2 separate regions of the Homo sapiens genome follow, and region 2 is linked to region 1. A link means that fine-mapping ties the variant in region 1 to the expression of a gene that starts in the linked region. Tissue or cell type: whole blood. Region 1 holds a variant in brackets; the other region holds the start of a gene. All regions are shown on one strand. Distances are from middle to middle.

Region 1 (8,107 bases):
TGCACCAATCGGTACTCTGTATCTAGCTAATCTGGTGGGGACTTGAAGAATCTTTATGTCTAGCTAAGTGATTGTAAATACACCAATCAGCACTCTGTATCAAGCTCAAGGTTTGTAAATGCACCAATCCGCACTCTGTGTCTAGTTCAGGGTTTGTAAATACACCAATCAGCACTCTGTATCTAGCTAATCTAGTGGGGAGGTGGAGAACTTTTGTGTCTAGCTCAGGGATTGTAAATGCACCAATCAGCACCCTGTCAAAACAGACCAATCCAATCAGCTGTCTGTAAAACAGACCAATCAGGCTGCCGAGCCAGCAGTGGCAATCCAATCGGGTCCCCTTCCACACTGTGGAAGCTTTGTTCTTTAGCTCTTTGCAATAAATCTTGCCGCTGCTCAATCTTTGAGTCCACACTGCCTTTATGAGCTGTAACACTCACCGCGAAGGTCTGCAGCTTCACTCCTGAAGCCAGCGAGGCCACAAGCCCACCGGGAGGAGCGAACAACTCCAGATGTGCCGCCTTAAGAGCTGTAACACTCACCGTGAAGGTCTGCAGCTTCACTCCTGAGCCGGTGACACCACAAACCCACCAGAAGGAAGAAACTCCGAACACATCCGAACATCAGAAGGAACAAACTCCAGACACACCGCCTTTAAGAACTGTAGCACTCACCGCGAGGGTCCGTGGCTTCATTCTTGAAGTCAGTGAGACCAAGAACCCACCAATTCTGGACACACTATGACCCAAACACTTCCCATTAGGCCCCACCACTCAAAACCTCCGCACTGGGGATCAAGCTTCCAACACATGAATTTTGGGGGACACATTCAAACCATTTGTGTTCTCTCTACCTGGATGCCAAATATATGTCCAGAAAAAATACTTCTGGTTTTGTTGAAGAGCAAAAAGTTAAACAACAAGAATTATATGTATTTTGGCAGCTGCTGTCTGGCAGATGTCCAGAGAATTAACTGAACAAGAATTCACGTCAAGGATATTTGTCAAGAATCACCTCTTGGCTGGGTGCAATGGCTCATGCCTGTAATCCCAGCATTTTGGAGGGTGAGGTGGGAGGATCGCTTGAGGCCAGGAGTTCCAGACCAGCCTGGCCAACACAGTGAGACCTCATCTCTACAAAACACTTTAAAAATTAGCCAGGTGCAGTGACACATGCCTGTGGTCCTAGCTCCCGGGGAGCTGAGGTCAGAGAATCACTTGAGCCAGGAGTTCAAGGTTACGGTGAGCTATGATCACGCCACTACACTCCAGCCTGGGCAAGAGAGTGAAAACTTGTCTAAAAAAAAAAAAAATCATCTCTTAAAAGACATCAAGCGGCCTGGTGTGGTGGCTCACGCCTGTAATCCCAGCATTTTGGGAGGCCATGGCGGGTGGATCATGAAGTTAGGAGTTTGAGACCATTTCCATCTTGCTGACCAAGATGGTGAAACCCCATCTGTACTAAAACTACAAAAATTAGCCAGGCAAGGTGGCAGGCGCCTGTAATCCCAGTTACTCGGGAGGCTGAGGCAGGAGAATCGCTCGAATCCGGGTGGCATAGGTTACAGTGAACTGAGATCGCACCACAGCACTCCAACCTGGGCGACAGAGTAAGACTCCGTCTCAAAAAAAAAAAAAAAAAGATATCAAGCTACATTAAAATGCTTTGGAACCACAGGTTAACTACAAGGTCCAATTCTCCACTAATTGGGTTGCTTAGACCAAATGGGCAGGACAGTTCTAATCCATCTGCAGGACTAGGAGAGACCTTCTGAGAAGGCAGGGGTAGGCTGAAGGTCAGCATTGCAATCTGATTGTTATGTGACTTGGGAACACTGGTTATTGCCTCCGAGTTCCTCATTTGCAAGATGAAGCCACTAATATACCTACTTCAGAGGTTTACAGGAAGAGTAAATAGGGTAGTGGGTGTAAAATGCTGTCCCTGGTCTACAATAAGTGAGTAAATGCTAGCTTTCCATTTGCCTCTGGATAGAAACCAAAATTAGCCCTACCTTGCATTTCTCCCCACTCCATGCCACTTGTGTCCACAGCCATCTACCTACACTGTGGCATGAGGAAACTCCAAAGCTCTTGACCTTCAATGGCTCCTAACAATCCAAAAGGATCAACCCCCAATTCCCTAAAGTGGCCTCAGTCCCCTTTTGTTGCAGTTTTCTGACCACTCCTTTCCCCTCCTAAACTCTAACCCAGCTTCCAAAGAGCCTATCACTTCCCCAATGGTCCTAGTCATTTCTATCTTCTGAATCTGCACGCAGACTGTAGCCCCTTAGGATTTGTTCCACACCTACATGACATGGGGTTAGTTGCACATAGTTCTAACCTTTCCTCTAAAAGATAAACTTCTTGGAGGTAGAGTATTTTATTCATTATTACATCTGGCATAGCACACAATGCTTCGTGCATGGCAGTAAGAGCTGATATTTACCGAGAGCTGACTACATTCCGAGCACTATTCTAAGTGCCTTACATGAACATATGAGCTCATTTAATTTTCACAACAATTTTGGAATACGCACAATTATTCTCTCCATTTACAGACCAGGAAACTGAGACCCAAAGCATAACCTGTCCAAGGTTATACCACTAGGAAGTGAGAGGGCCTGGGTTCAGATCCAAGCAGCCTAGCTACAGAACCTACGTTCTTAACCACTATGCTACAGTCGATGTTCAATCAATTTAGCTAATTTATGTAAAAGAGCTTCAAAAACTATAAAGGACTATAAGCCACAATAAACCAAAAGTTCAAACAAAATAGGTTTTTGATATCTCTAAGGACGGGGAGACAGTAGTATATGAAGGTTAAGTTTAGAATCAGACCAGAGTTCGAATACCACCAGCTCTATCCCTTTCTATCTGTGGGCAAGCTATTATTCTTTTTCAGCATCTGCAAGATTAAACTACTTGTTAAGATGGTTGTGAGAATTGAGATGACTCAGGTAGAACGAGAACGTGCCTACCACAGAGTATGCGGTCAATAAATTTTGGCTCTAAAACAGAGTCAAATTGTAAAACCAAAGAAATTTTCTTTGCTAAGTTATTAACCAACAATTATAAACAGTATTAAACAATAATCACTTACTGTTTTTTATTGCACTTCAGGCCTGTAAAACAGTCAAATAACATTAATTATCTCTAATAAGAAAAAGGGTCAGAGTTCTGCCTCTGGGCATAAGACTGAAGCAGCAGTTGGAAAGCCTAACTCATTAAAGCAAATGCAAAGGAAACATTAAAAGCACACGTAAGCAGTGGGAAAATTCCCAGTGAAGTGTACTGACAAATACAAGTGTATCCAAATGTGTATGTTCTGAAAAGCATGCTATATAATAGGTCCAAGGGGTGAAGAGCATAGGATGTTAACACAGGGGCTGTTAACAGTTTGTGTGGGTGCACAGATAAGAATTAAGCACAACAAGAGGCTGGTTTCAGCTTAAGTTCATGGAAGAGGGA[C/T]CGGCACCGGCTCCGGCTCCCCTGGGCGGCGGTGAGTCTATCCACGGAAGATACCCAGGCTCCAGACATGAGATAAGGGGCAGAGGGAACTCTGTCCCTGGCCGGGAAGCCCGAACAACTCCGAAGTCCCTTACTACCTTTGAGCGGGGCCGCGGAAGGAAGGACAGGGAGACACCTGCTCAGAATGAGACTGGGCCTATATTTTAACTATCTTTTTTGGGGGAGGGGGTGTGAAATGTAATCACTCGGGAAAGGTGCGTTAGGGCATCAGGGAGGTGACATCTGTGCAAAATGCATCCAGAGATCCAGAGATCCAGACTCGGTGGCTCTCAGGACGCAACGGCCTGCAAAGGACATCTTGCGGACGCGACCCTCCGACTCCACTCAAGGTACTTGCTCCGCCAAAGCAGCTTCTAGACAGCCCCGACCCCCTTGCCACCAGCTGCCTCCACCAGAGGCCTGAAGGGGGTCGGGGTCATAGACTGCCCGCGGGTAAAGAGTCTGGGGACCCAGGACGTGGAGCGGGGCTCAGGCCGGCGCCCCGAGGCCCGTTAGAAGGCTCTGCCAGCTGCGATTCCAGGGGCCAAGGTCGCCCTGGGCCCCCAGGACGCCAGCCTCGAACGCACTCACCAGCCTGCTGCCGCGCAGCAACCGCACTGCCAGGCCCTCCATCCTCGCCGCAGGCCTCTCCGCTCTGCGCCTCTGGGTCTCTAGCCAGCCCCTGGGAGTTACCCGAGCAAGGCCCCGCCCACTCAGTACCCGCCCCGCACACACCCCCCCTTAATCCCTGCCCCCTGCTGCCTACGGAACCCCAAGAGAGACAAACAGGCCCCTCCTCGCTTTCGCCCTCCATCCTGCTCACGCGAGACTTGAGCAAGGCAGGGGGGCGGGAAGGGAGTCGGAGACACAACAAAGATGGCGGCGGCGACTGTGACGGTGACGAAGACGGCGGCGGCGGCGACGGCATTTAACAAGGCGGTGTGGTTTACTCCATGCAGTTGTCAGGAGGTAAGTAGCAGGCTGCCGGCTCGGACGGCGGCGACGCGGCAGGACAGGGCGGATAAGAAGGAGCGGCCGGAGACTGGAGCTGGGTTCGTGGCGGGCCGGCTGATCCGGACGGAGACTCAGTTCAGTGGAGGGTCGGGCGTGGTCGGTAGGCGGGCAGGTGATGGCCCGGGACCTCTTTAGCCGGAGGGCAGTGGACTGCGGCGCCTATGGCCGCGAGAACCCCGAGGGAGCGGGGTCTCCTGCTGTCATTGCCTTCGAGCAGGAGCTCGGAGGCTCCGGGGCGGGGACTGTTGCTTGGCTCTGACAGGTGGTTCTGCGGGAGGCGTCCCGAGGTTTGCGTCTTCACGGGGTCCCAGGGGCTGGGAGTCAGCCGGGCGCGGGTCTCCTAGGTGTTTCGAATCCTGGCGAGGATGTCGCTCCGAATCTTGGTGAGGCTGCTGCCCCGACGCCGGTCCCAGGCTGATTGTTGGGAGAAGGACGTTTAAAGCCTTCGTATTTTATCTAATGATCCTGCCCGGATCCGTCTCTACTGCATGGGCACCCTTATTTTAGGAACATGTGAGATTTGAGAAAGACATTGTAGCAAATAACTATTCAGGTTCATTCGGGGTTTAGATCTTTGGATAAACTGTGTGGAGCGCGAGTAGCCAAGCCTAGCATGCTCGATGACTGGATCTGAAGCTAAACAAGTTCTAGCAAACACTAACCACGTGGCCTGCTTAGAGTCCCCTTGATGTGCTGGTCAGAACCCGAAAGACGTGTGACAAGCGGAAGAAGACATAAAGGCGTCTTAAATTGTGTGATCTGAGGAAATTCAGTTTTGAAAGAACAGAATGTATTTAAAACAACTTTTTTTTAAACGTAGGAACTAACAATTTTAAAAATTCAATTTAATTTTGATTTATGTCGTGTTGTCACAACAGCTAAAGGTTATTATTATTGATGAGAGTTCGTTACAGTGAATTGAAATGTCTGGTGTTATTTTCCCCTAGCGGTCCAGGATGTTTCCCAGAAAACCGTAGCTGTTTTGTGTTATGATAGGATAAGAAGGATGGGATTCAGATGTGCCCTTATCGGGTGTGCATGTTTTTTTTGTTTTTGTATTTAAAGCCCTTTCCCATTTCCCTACTTAGGACTATGCGTTGTTTTTATGCAACTACAGCTGTTCAGCAGTACTAAGCTTGACCGTTTTGGAAGTGTGCTGTGACTAAATGAAGTTAATCTTAATTTCTTTAAACTGAAGTTTAACTTAAATTTAGACATTAAAAATCTTGCCAAAAACTAATCCACCAGTGAGAAAACGGTAGTCACACCAGTTATTCTTTGGTGATCCTATGGAGCTTTTGCTGAAGTGAAGCTACTGCTTTGTTCTTTGATTAATCTGTCAGTTCGTTTTCTTTTCAGCTAATGTAATGATAAGATTGGCATAAGTTACTAGCTCATTCAACCTGTAGATGCTAATTAAGTTTTTATCTTAAAGGTTTTGATTTGTGGTGTGCTGTTTGTTTTTTATGCAGACCTCTGTATGGCTTTTCAATTTTAGTTGAAATTCTCTCTCCATGGCCTTTTGGAGTCCCTTGCTGTATCTCCGAAGTAAATTTCAATTACTCTACATTTCATCAATGTTGGAGTGGCAAGAAAAAGGAGGAACAGATTTGGGGTGAAAAGGTTAGATTGTATAATTTCTCTTCTGGATTTCTTTCAACATGGTTTTACTTATGTTTTATTTTTATGTTTTGATTTCTGATTTCTCAGAGCCTCATAATTTCTTTTTTTGCCTTCAAGAGTTTTTGACAGTTCTGAAATCAGGAATTGTGTTCCAATTATTTTGGAAGGCCCATGTTACTCCATAGAAACCAATCCTTATTTGTCAACGTTGTCTGTTTATATGTGTTCTATAGCAGAGTAAATCTCAGTGACCATAATTATTAGGCTATGGAGGGTAAACACATCTATTGAACTGTAATCACTTTATGTGTATAGGCCTGCCTTACCCATAAATTATTATGTAAGTAAATTAGTTGCTAATATTGTATTCTTCCTTATGGTTACCTATGAGAAGTAAGACTTCTCATGAATGCTAGGTGAACGAAACATATCCTGCTGTTCCCTAATCATGTTCTCAAAATTCTCCCACAGTTTATAAAAAAGATAGAAGGAAGAAGGAAGATAGGTTAGAGAGCTTCTTCTCTGGTTGTTTCATAGTTGTGAATGCCTTCTAATTTGCATTTCAGTGCCTGTGTTTTAAATTATTAGCTACTGGTTAAGAGGCTGGGGGGGGTGCACATATATACACACATGTAATTGTGTGTGTGTGCTTGTATATATGCTTGCATTGATCAACAGCTTCCCATTTATGAGACTGAAGAAGAAAGATCAGACGACTTCATACAAAATAAATCCTTTATCAGAAACCAAGGAAGATCGGAAATTAGCCTAAATTACCTACTTGAGGTAGAGGTTTTCCTGTTCTTTGGGATATCAAAGCTTAATTCTCTTATACCTCTTTTCCCCCTACCGGCTTGCATAGCCTCTGGTTGTTTTCTGAAAGCATTGATTTTGAGCCTTGAATAATAAATTGGGGGACGCTACTGGCATGACAATACTTTAGGTATACCCTAGCCAGTTTCTATATAGATATCCACCTACACCCCATGGAATTCCATACTATATTCAACTTAACTTTAATCAGAATAATCACAGGAAGGATTTGGGAATTTTGCTATATCATAAGGAACAATCATCATAAAGTATGGGGATATTGTTCTCTTTGGTTGATATGATTAGATATCTTAGTTCAGGTTGCTGTAACGAATTACCATAGACTGAGTGGTTTAAACAAACATTTATTTCTCACAGTTCTGGAGGCTGGGAAATCTTAATATGAAGGTGCCAGCAGATCAGGTATCTGGGGAGGGCTTGCTTTCTGATTGTATCCTCTCATGGCAAAGAGCAGAGAGGAAGCAAGATCTCTGGATCTCTTCACAAGGCACTAATCCCATTTAGAGGACTTCACCTTTACAACCCAATTATTTCTCAAAGGCCCCACTCCAGATGCCATCAAATTGGGGGTTAGAATTTCAACATATCAGCTTTTGGGGACATAAACATTCAGTCCATGACGATACCAGCAGAAAGAGTACATCTGAGTTGTAATAACACCACCCACATCTGTAATAATACTGGAGAATACTTAAGTATATTTCTTGTTCAGATGACATGATATCATACATTGAAATTTTGTGTTAAGTAAGTAATTTTTTGGCTAACAAACACCAAGGTATTGAGTTCATGTCCAGTATAGGAAAGATACCACTAAAAAAATTATAGCTTGTGGATTTTCTAAAGTATATTTTGTTATGTTTGCAAAGGTTTTAAAATTTATCAATGCCTTAGAGGCATCTCTGGGTATCAGTTAATTTGTGGAGTTCCTAGATTAAACTTTGAGACTTGAGACTGATGATAATTACATCAAAGACAGGAAAATGGCTCAGATAGAAAACCTTTATTTTCTTTCTATAAGAGGAAGTCTTTTGTAGTTCCAGAAATTTTTTTTTTCTTTTAAAAATTAGAGATGAGGTCTCGCTCTGTTGCCTGGACTGGTCTTGAACTCCTGAGCTCAGGCAGTCCTC
Region 2 (8,087 bases), 160 kb after region 1:
GCACATCCCGGAGCCTGGGACACAGCCAAATGCAGCACCTTCCCATCATTCCTGCATCTCGGGGGCCTGCAGTGACCAGTTGGGTGACCTTGCTTGCAAAATCACTCACTCTTGCTTTTGTAACCTCAGTTTACATTTATAGCAATCATAGAAGAGGAAAGGATTCGAGAGGAACTTGGGATGGGGGAGAGAGCTTTAATGTAGGGCTGGTGTTCATGTTTGACTGGCTTCAGCACTAAACTCCCCAGATACCCCCCAACAGTTCTAACAAAAGGGCTGAGAAGAAAAATTCTAAGCCTGTGCTTTGTGTGTGTCTTTTCTCAAGAGCTGCAAAGGAACCTGAAGCTGTGGCTGTAAAAAATCACAACCCAGACAAGGTGTGGTGGGCCAAGAACAGCCAGGCCAAAACCATTGCCACGGAGTCTTGTCCTGCCCTGCAGTGCTGTGAAGGATATAGAATGTGTGCCAGTTTTGATTCCCTGCCACCTTGCTGTTGCGACATAAATGAGGGCCTCTGAGTTAGGAAAGGTGGGCACAAAAATCTTCATGAGCAATACTTCTTAGTAGATTGTTTTGTTATTCAAATCAAGTTCTAGTGTTTTTATGTGAGATTATATAATTTACAGTGTTGTTTTATATACTTTTGAATAAATGTACACTATTAAAAATAATCCTCTTTGCTGCCAATATTTTTTGATTGTTGATTATAAACATCCTTTGTTTAAATATATTTATTACTCACTTTGGAATGTGGGGGGGGATTAGCTTGTAGCATTGCAATAGAAGAAAGAGAATTGGAATAAAAGTGTCCAGCACATCTCCCACCCGAGAAGGAAAATGCACACTGTTCTTAGGACACTTCCAATTTCAGCCCAGCTGATCTTGTCCAGCTGGAGTCGCTCGTTTAGCTCTCGTGAGGGCTTGGATGGTTGACATCCACCGCAGAAAATGGTGTCATGTCCTGATACCTGTCCTGTTGTCCTGTCCATTTATCCAAGACAGTGAGAGGAGCCAGGCAGGACCTCCCTGTGTTAAAGTTGTCTGACCTGTGTAAGATAGGCCTGAGCTCAGTGACCTCAAAAGGACCTTTTGAAAACCAGTTTCTTCCTACTGCAATCCCCAAATCTCCAGAGCATGTGGCTCCTGCGTGGATTACGGTAACAGTGATGTGTGTTGATCCAGCCATCAACATCTTCAACTGTAACACGAACCACCAGCCAAAGGCCAAAGCCCAGACTCCCTGACCACAACAGCAGGTGGCAGGAAGCACTCCTCCCCACTTTACTCCCAGCTGCCTTCTGTTCCAGCTCCTGCCCCTGAGCCTCCTGGAACCCCTTTCTAAGCATGATTCCCTATCTGTAACCGCCATGTCCACTCCTCTCATGAACTAAACCCTTGCTTGTGACCATCACATGTATACTGAATGTAAAGAATTATTAGCTAGTAACAGGTGGTAATCTACTAAAAGGGGGTAAAAAGGAAAACAGAAGTCGCAAATGAAGGAAACAGCTGTGACAGCTAGGCACAGAAACAGGCCAGATGTGGGTGGAGGAGCTGCCTGTAGACGCCGAGCACCTCCTGGAGGCTGAGCCTCCAGCCCCAGCATGCTTGGGAAGAGGCCAAGTCAGGGCAGCCTCCAGCTGGAGGTCACCTGTCCCCCTTAAGTTTCCGGGCACTGTCTCTGTCCCCTGCCTTTGATTTTCTCTTGTCACCAGCCAGCTCTGACAGATGGAGCACATACAAATCCCCTCTTACCCCACCCAGTGGGTGGCCCAGTGCCTGGATCCAGGACGCCTGTGCCAGGGCCTCCCCATGTGGGTGACTATACCTGGTGCAGGTATTGCGGGGGCCGTGAGGGAGGTGGGACAAAGGTCTTCAGGACACCCCCATTAGCAGGAGGACAGAGCACCGCACATGGGCTTTAGAGCCCTATGGAGCCGGTTCCCATCCCAATTCGGCCTTCACCAGGGGAAGTCCCTTGACTCATCTGAGCCTCTGTGTCCTTGATGTGAAGTGCGGACTTGCACAGGTGACAGAGAAGAAGCAATGAGATGATGCAGGGTGACCCCACAGCACCCCGTGGTCCCCAGGAAGTTGCCAGAGGCCTGAAGGGGGCTTCTCTCCTGACTGGATCTGGAAGCCTGGGTCCTTTGCCAGGGCCACCTAACAGAGTGTGGCCATGAAACTCTCGCACTCAGTGGAGATGGATTAGGGATGTTGGAGATCCCAGCCATGGGTGACAAAGAGGGGTTCAGAGGGAAAGCCCAGGGTGGGAGTGGGTATCCATGGACACAGCTGCAAGCGCTTAGTAACCAGAAGGGTCCCCCATCTCAAACACCTGTGGCCTGCTAACTCACCCCAGGACACCCAGTCCTGCCTCATCCACAGCCAGCCCGGGCAGATAGGAATGGAGCAGAGCAAGGCAGGGGCCTTGGGGTATGTCCAAGCTCCTCCTGAGCATCCCAGGTGCTGCCTTTCCCCTGCAAGGGTCCAACGAGGAATGGATCCCCTGGGTCACAACGTAGGACTGTGCTCTCCCTAGGGAGGCCTCCTGGGCTGCAGCACAGTCAGAACAACACAGAGGGGCTGACGGTAGCCAGAGGGTTTCACCCTAGGAGACTTAGCCTACACGAGCGTCAGACCTCCCCAGAGCTGCACAAAGGTTCTTCAGAAAGTAGCCAGTCCTGGCATTGTCCACTCAATATGTTCCACCTGAACTTAGAGTGAAAACCAGACTCATTTGCCCTATGGGTCCTTCCCCATCTGACCTTCACCTGCTCCTCTCCATCCTCCCCTCCCAGCTCACTCCTCCCACTCATGACCAGCCAGGCTGTTCTTTATTCCCTACTATTGTAGGTGTGCCCACCTGGTCTCTGCCTCGGGGCCTGTGCACTTGCCCTCTCTTTTGCCTAAGATGCAGCCCCCAAGCTCAGATCACCCATGAATGCCTCCCTCTTGTCTTTCTGCCTTTGTTCAGATTTCATCTCTCAAGATGCCCTCCTTCTCACTGTCATATTTCCTCCCCACCCCAAGGCAACCACCATCTATGCAGTCATCCTGTTTATTGTATCCTTAGCTCCTCTCACCAGTTGAATTCTTCATTTATTTTTGTTGTTTAACTCTCCACTTAGAATACAAGTTTCATGAGGGCAGGACTGTGTCTCTCACATTCAATTCTATATTGCTTAGGCCCTAGATCAATAAGTAATGTTTACTGACTGAATGAATGAAAAGAGGGCAGCCCCCACCCACCACCACTTGCTCCTCCCAATCTCAATGTGGACACTAGGATTTCTTTCTCTCAACTGCAAAACACCGTGCCCGAGAGACTAATTCACCTGCTTCAGTCTCTCCAGACATAACTGGTTAGAAATCGCTGTGGGGGAATCTGGATCTGCACTCTTTTTCTCTTCATCCTCTACCCTCTTCCCCTCCCCCACAGGGTCAGCCACCTGGCAGGGCATCTGAATGTCCCAGCTGGACCCAGATTTTGCCCAGGTGCTGCACCCCCTGCCTTGCCCCACAGGCCTTTGTTCTCCCACAGGCTCCCTTCTCAAAGCAGAGCCCTGAAGACTTCAATGATGTCAATGAGGCCACCTGTTTGTGATGTGCAGGCACAGAAGAAAGGCACAGCTCCCCATCAGTTTCATGGAAAATAACTCAGTGCCTGCTGGGAACCAGCTGCTGGAGATCCCTACAGAGAGCTTCCACTGGGGGCAACCCTTCCAGGAAGGAGTTGGGGAGAGAGAACCCTCACTGTGGGGAATGCTGATAAACCAGTCACACAGCTGCTCTATTCTCACACAAATCTACCCCTTGCGTGGCTGGAACTGACGTTTCCCTGGAGGTGTCCAGAAAGCTGATGTAACACAGAGCCTATAAAAGCTGTCGGTCCTTAAGGCTGCCCAGCGCCTTGCCAAAATGGAGCTTGTAAGAAGGCTCATGCCATTGACCCTCTTAATTCTCTCCTGTTTGGCGGAGCTGACAATGGCGGAGGCTGAAGGTAAGAAAATTGAACCAGATTTATTCACCAAAACAGAGAAGTTCTTCTCTTAAGAGGCCTCTTTCAAAATTTTTCAAAGTGTTTATATCTGTTGGCCCCAGTTCAGAGAAAAATGTACTCTAATGCTCTTGGAGGGGATTTTAAATTAGTTCTAATTTTATTTGGCTCATCTGACAATGTCCATAAAAATATCAAAAGTGTATAGAATTTTACTGAGTAATTTACTGCTAAGAGTTTATGTTTTGGAAATAAGCATAAAAGTGTCCAAAGATATATGTATAAATATGTGCACTTACATAATTGTAAACTACAACATGAATTTTCATTATTTCTTACGGTAAATCCATAAAATGGAACACTCTTTTTTGCAACTTAAAAAAAAATGATGGCTGGGGGCGGTGGCTCACGCCTGTAATCCCAGCACTTTGGGAGGCCAAGGTGGGTGGATCACGAGGTCAGGAGTTCGAGACCAGCCTGGCCAACATGGTGAAACCCCATCTCTACTAAAAATACAAAAATTAGCCAGGTGTGGTGATGCGTGCCTGTAGTCCCAGCTACTCGGGAGGCTGAGGCAGGAGAATCGCTTGAACCCGAGAGGTGGAGGTTGCAGTTAGCTGCGATCATGCCACTGCACTCCAGCCTGGGTGACAGAGCAAGACTCCGTCTCATAAAAAAAAAAAAAAAAGACTCTGATCTATAATGTGTCCATAGACCACATTAAGAGAAAAAAGAGATCTGAAGTTTGTGTACAATATGATGGTTCTTATGTTTGAAATATATACATTCAAGCATTTTAAATGTCTAGAAATAGAAGAGGAAAGGAAAAGGAGTGGAAGAATTTACACCAAGGTTTTAGTGATGATTGTTTCTGGATGGATGGGGTTATGGGAGTATATGGGAGAATAAATAAAAATAAAGCTTTGTTCCTATGTAGGTGGGGTTTTTGACCATTAGTCAAAATCTTGGTGGGATTTTGAATTAGTACTAATTTTATTTGGGCCCATCTGACAACATACATAAAAATATAAGAATTTACCAAATAATTTTTAAAAATTTTATAGAAAAAAATTTTCACTATGTTGCCCAGGCTGGTCTCGAACTCCTGAGCTCAAGTGATCCACCCGCTTTGGCCTCCCAAAGTGCTGGGATTACAGGTGTGAGTCACCACGCCCAGCCCCTTACCGGGTAATTTCACTGCTAACAGCTTATCTTTAGGATCCAGTTATTTTTCCTCTTCCCCTTTTCTCTTTCTTCTCTTCTTTCTCCTTTTTAATAACAGCTTTATTAAGATATGATTAACATACCATAAAATCCACCATTTTAAAGTATACAATTTAGTGTTTTTTAGTATATACACAGAATTGTGCAACAATCACCACTATCTAATTCCAGAACATATTCTTCACCCCCAAAAGAAACTGTCTCAGGCTCAGCATGATGGCTCAAGCCTACAATCCCAGCACTTTGGGGGGCTGACATGGGAGCATTGCTTGAGGCTGAGAGTTTGAGACCACCCTGAACGACGTAGTGAGACCTCGACTCTACAAAATTAAAAAAAAAATTTTTTTAGCCAGGCATGGTGGTACATGACTGTAGTCCCAGCTACTCTGGCGGCTGAGGTGGGAGGATCACTTGAGCCCAGTAGTTTGAGGCTGCAGTAAGCTATGATTGTGCCATCTCAATCCAGTATAGGTAACAGAGTGAGACTCTGTCTGTCCCTCTCTCTATATATATATATATTTATATATAGTCTCTCTATATATATAGTCTCTCTATAGTCTATATATAGTCTTTATATAGTCTATATATATAGTCTCTATATATAGACCAATGTTTTATATATATATAAATATATCTAACAATATATATAACTGTATATTATATATAGACTAATGTGATGAATATTAGTGTACAAGTTTCTGTGTGGACATATATATATATATATATATATGTATGTATATATATGTATGAAGAAAGTCTGTATTCACTACCATTCACTCTCCATTTCTCCTGATGTCTCCAGCACAAGGAAACCACTACTCTACTTTCTGTCTCTATAAATTTACTTATTCTGGATATTTCACATAAATGAAATCATGTAATATGTGGTATTTCACTTAGCATAATATTTTCAAGGTTCGTATGTATTGTAGCATGTATCAGTACAATCAGCCCTCAGTACCTGTGGGTTCAGCATTCATGGATTCAACCAACCATGAATTGAAAACATTTGAAAAAATAAGGGTTGGTTACAGAACATGTACAAACTTTTTTCCTTGCTGTTATTTCCTAAATAATATAGTAAACAACTATTTACACATCATTTACACTGTATTATAAATAATCTAGAGATGTTTTGAAGTGTACAGGATGTGTGTAGGTCACATGCAAACACTGTCATTTTACATAAGGGACTCCAACATCCATGGATTTTGGTATCCACAGGGGGTCCTGGAACCAATCATTCGTGGACACCAAGGGATGACTGTACCTCATTTCTTTTTATTGCTGAATAATATTCCAATGTATGGATAGACCATGTTTTATTTATTCATCAATTGATGAACATTTGGCTTATTATGACTAATGTTGCGATGAATATAGTATACAAGTTTTTATGTGGACATTTGTTTTTATTTCTTTTGGGGATATGCCTAGCAATAGAATTGCTGGGTTATGATAACTGTATGTTTACTCTTTTGAGGAACTGCCAGACTGTTTTCCATGGCAGCTGTACCACTTTACAATCCCATAAGCAGTGTATAAGCATTCCAGTTTCTCCATGTCCTTGTCAACACTTGCTGTTTTCTGTGTTTGACTCTAGCCATCCTAATGCATGTGAAGTGATATCTCGTTGTGGTTTTCATTTGTATTTCCCTGATGACTAATGATGCTGAATATATCTTTACATGCATATTGGCCATTTATAGATCTTCTTTGGAAAAATGTCTATTCTGGTTCTTTGTCCATTTTAAATTGGATTATTTGCCTTTTAGTTATTGAATTGTAAGAATTCTTTATACATTCTAGAAATCAAGTGTCTTTTAAAAACCATCCTTTTTTTCCCAGGTTGATCTATAAATTCAGTGCAATTCCAATACAAATCCCAGTAAGAATGTTAAATAGATACAGACATGCTGACTCTAAAATTTATTGAAAAAGCAAAGGAACTGGAATAGCCAAAAAAATTTTGCAAAAGAACAGTAAAGTTGGAACAGTCATGTTACCTACAGTAATAACATAAACTACAGTAATCAAGCAGGTGTGGTTTGCCAAAAGGATAGACAGAGAAAATTGAAATAGAATAGAGTTCAGAAATAGATCCACACAAATATGGTCCTTTGATTTTTGACAAAGGTGCAAAGGCAATTTAATGGAGAAAGGACAGCCTTTTCATCAAATGGTCTTGGAACAATTGGACACCCATATGCAAAAAATGAACTCAACCTAAGCCTCATTTCTTACACATAAATTAGTTCAAAATGGATCATAGATCTAAATGTAAAATGTAAAACTATAGTATTTTTAAAAAGAAAACATGGGAGAAATCTTTGTAACCTGGGGTTGAGCAAAGAGTTCTTAGACAAGACACCAAAAGCACAACCCATAAAAGAAACTATTACTAAATTGGACTTTATAAAAGATTTAAAACTTTTGTTTTGGGAAAGACACTGTTAAGAGGATGAAAAGACAAGATACAGATTGGGAGAAAATATTTTCAAATTGCAGATGCAACAAAGGACTTGTATTCAGCATATATAAAAAACTCTCAAAACCCAATCATGAAAACAAAAAGCCAAGTTAAAAAAAAAAGGGCAAAAGACTGAGAGATACTTACCAAAAAGGATATATAGAAGGCAAATAAGAACATGAAATGATGTTCAATGTCATTAGCCATTAGGGAAATGTAAGTTAAAACCATGATGGGATGCTGCTACACATCTGTTAGAATGGCTATACAAAGCAATACAAAAACCTGACAATAGTGTGTGTTGACAAGAATGTGGTGCAACTGGAACTCTCATACATCATTGGTTGGATTGTGAAATAGAACAGCTACTCTGGCAAATGGTTTGGCAGTTTC

What was found. PIP is the estimated chance that this variant, and not a neighbour inherited with it, causes the effect.
Region 2: CUZD1 starts here. The variant in region 1 is fine-mapped to the expression of CUZD1 in whole blood (TOPMed, PIP above 0.99).

What each region holds. Positions count from the first base shown.
Region 1 is chr10:123,005,062-123,013,168 of GRCh38, reverse strand. It overlaps IKZF5 (IKAROS family zinc finger 5), which reads left to right and starts at 4,374. Exons shown (of 5, transcript NM_001372123.1): 1 at 4,374-4,475; 2 at 5,993-6,143. ACADSB (acyl-CoA dehydrogenase short/branched chain) reads right to left here and starts at 4,163. Exons shown (of 11, transcript NM_001609.4): 1 at 4,098-4,163. The coding sequence starts at 4,139. RefSeq lists enhancers at 4,258-4,587, 4,868-5,097. The variant C/T (reference allele first, on the strand shown) is at 3,468.
Region 2 is chr10:122,841,678-122,849,764 of GRCh38, reverse strand. CUZD1 (CUB and zona pellucida like domains 1) reads left to right here and starts at 3,908. Exons shown (of 9, transcript NM_022034.6): 1 at 3,908-4,003. The coding sequence starts at 3,922. FAM24B (family with sequence similarity 24 member B) reads left to right here. Exons shown (of 4, transcript NM_152644.3): 4 at 326-687. The coding sequence ends at 518. FAM24B-CUZD1 (FAM24B-CUZD1 readthrough) reads left to right here. Exons shown (of 11, transcript NR_037915.1): 3 at 3,545-4,003. RefSeq lists enhancers at 2,171-3,052, 3,119-3,618, 3,619-4,120.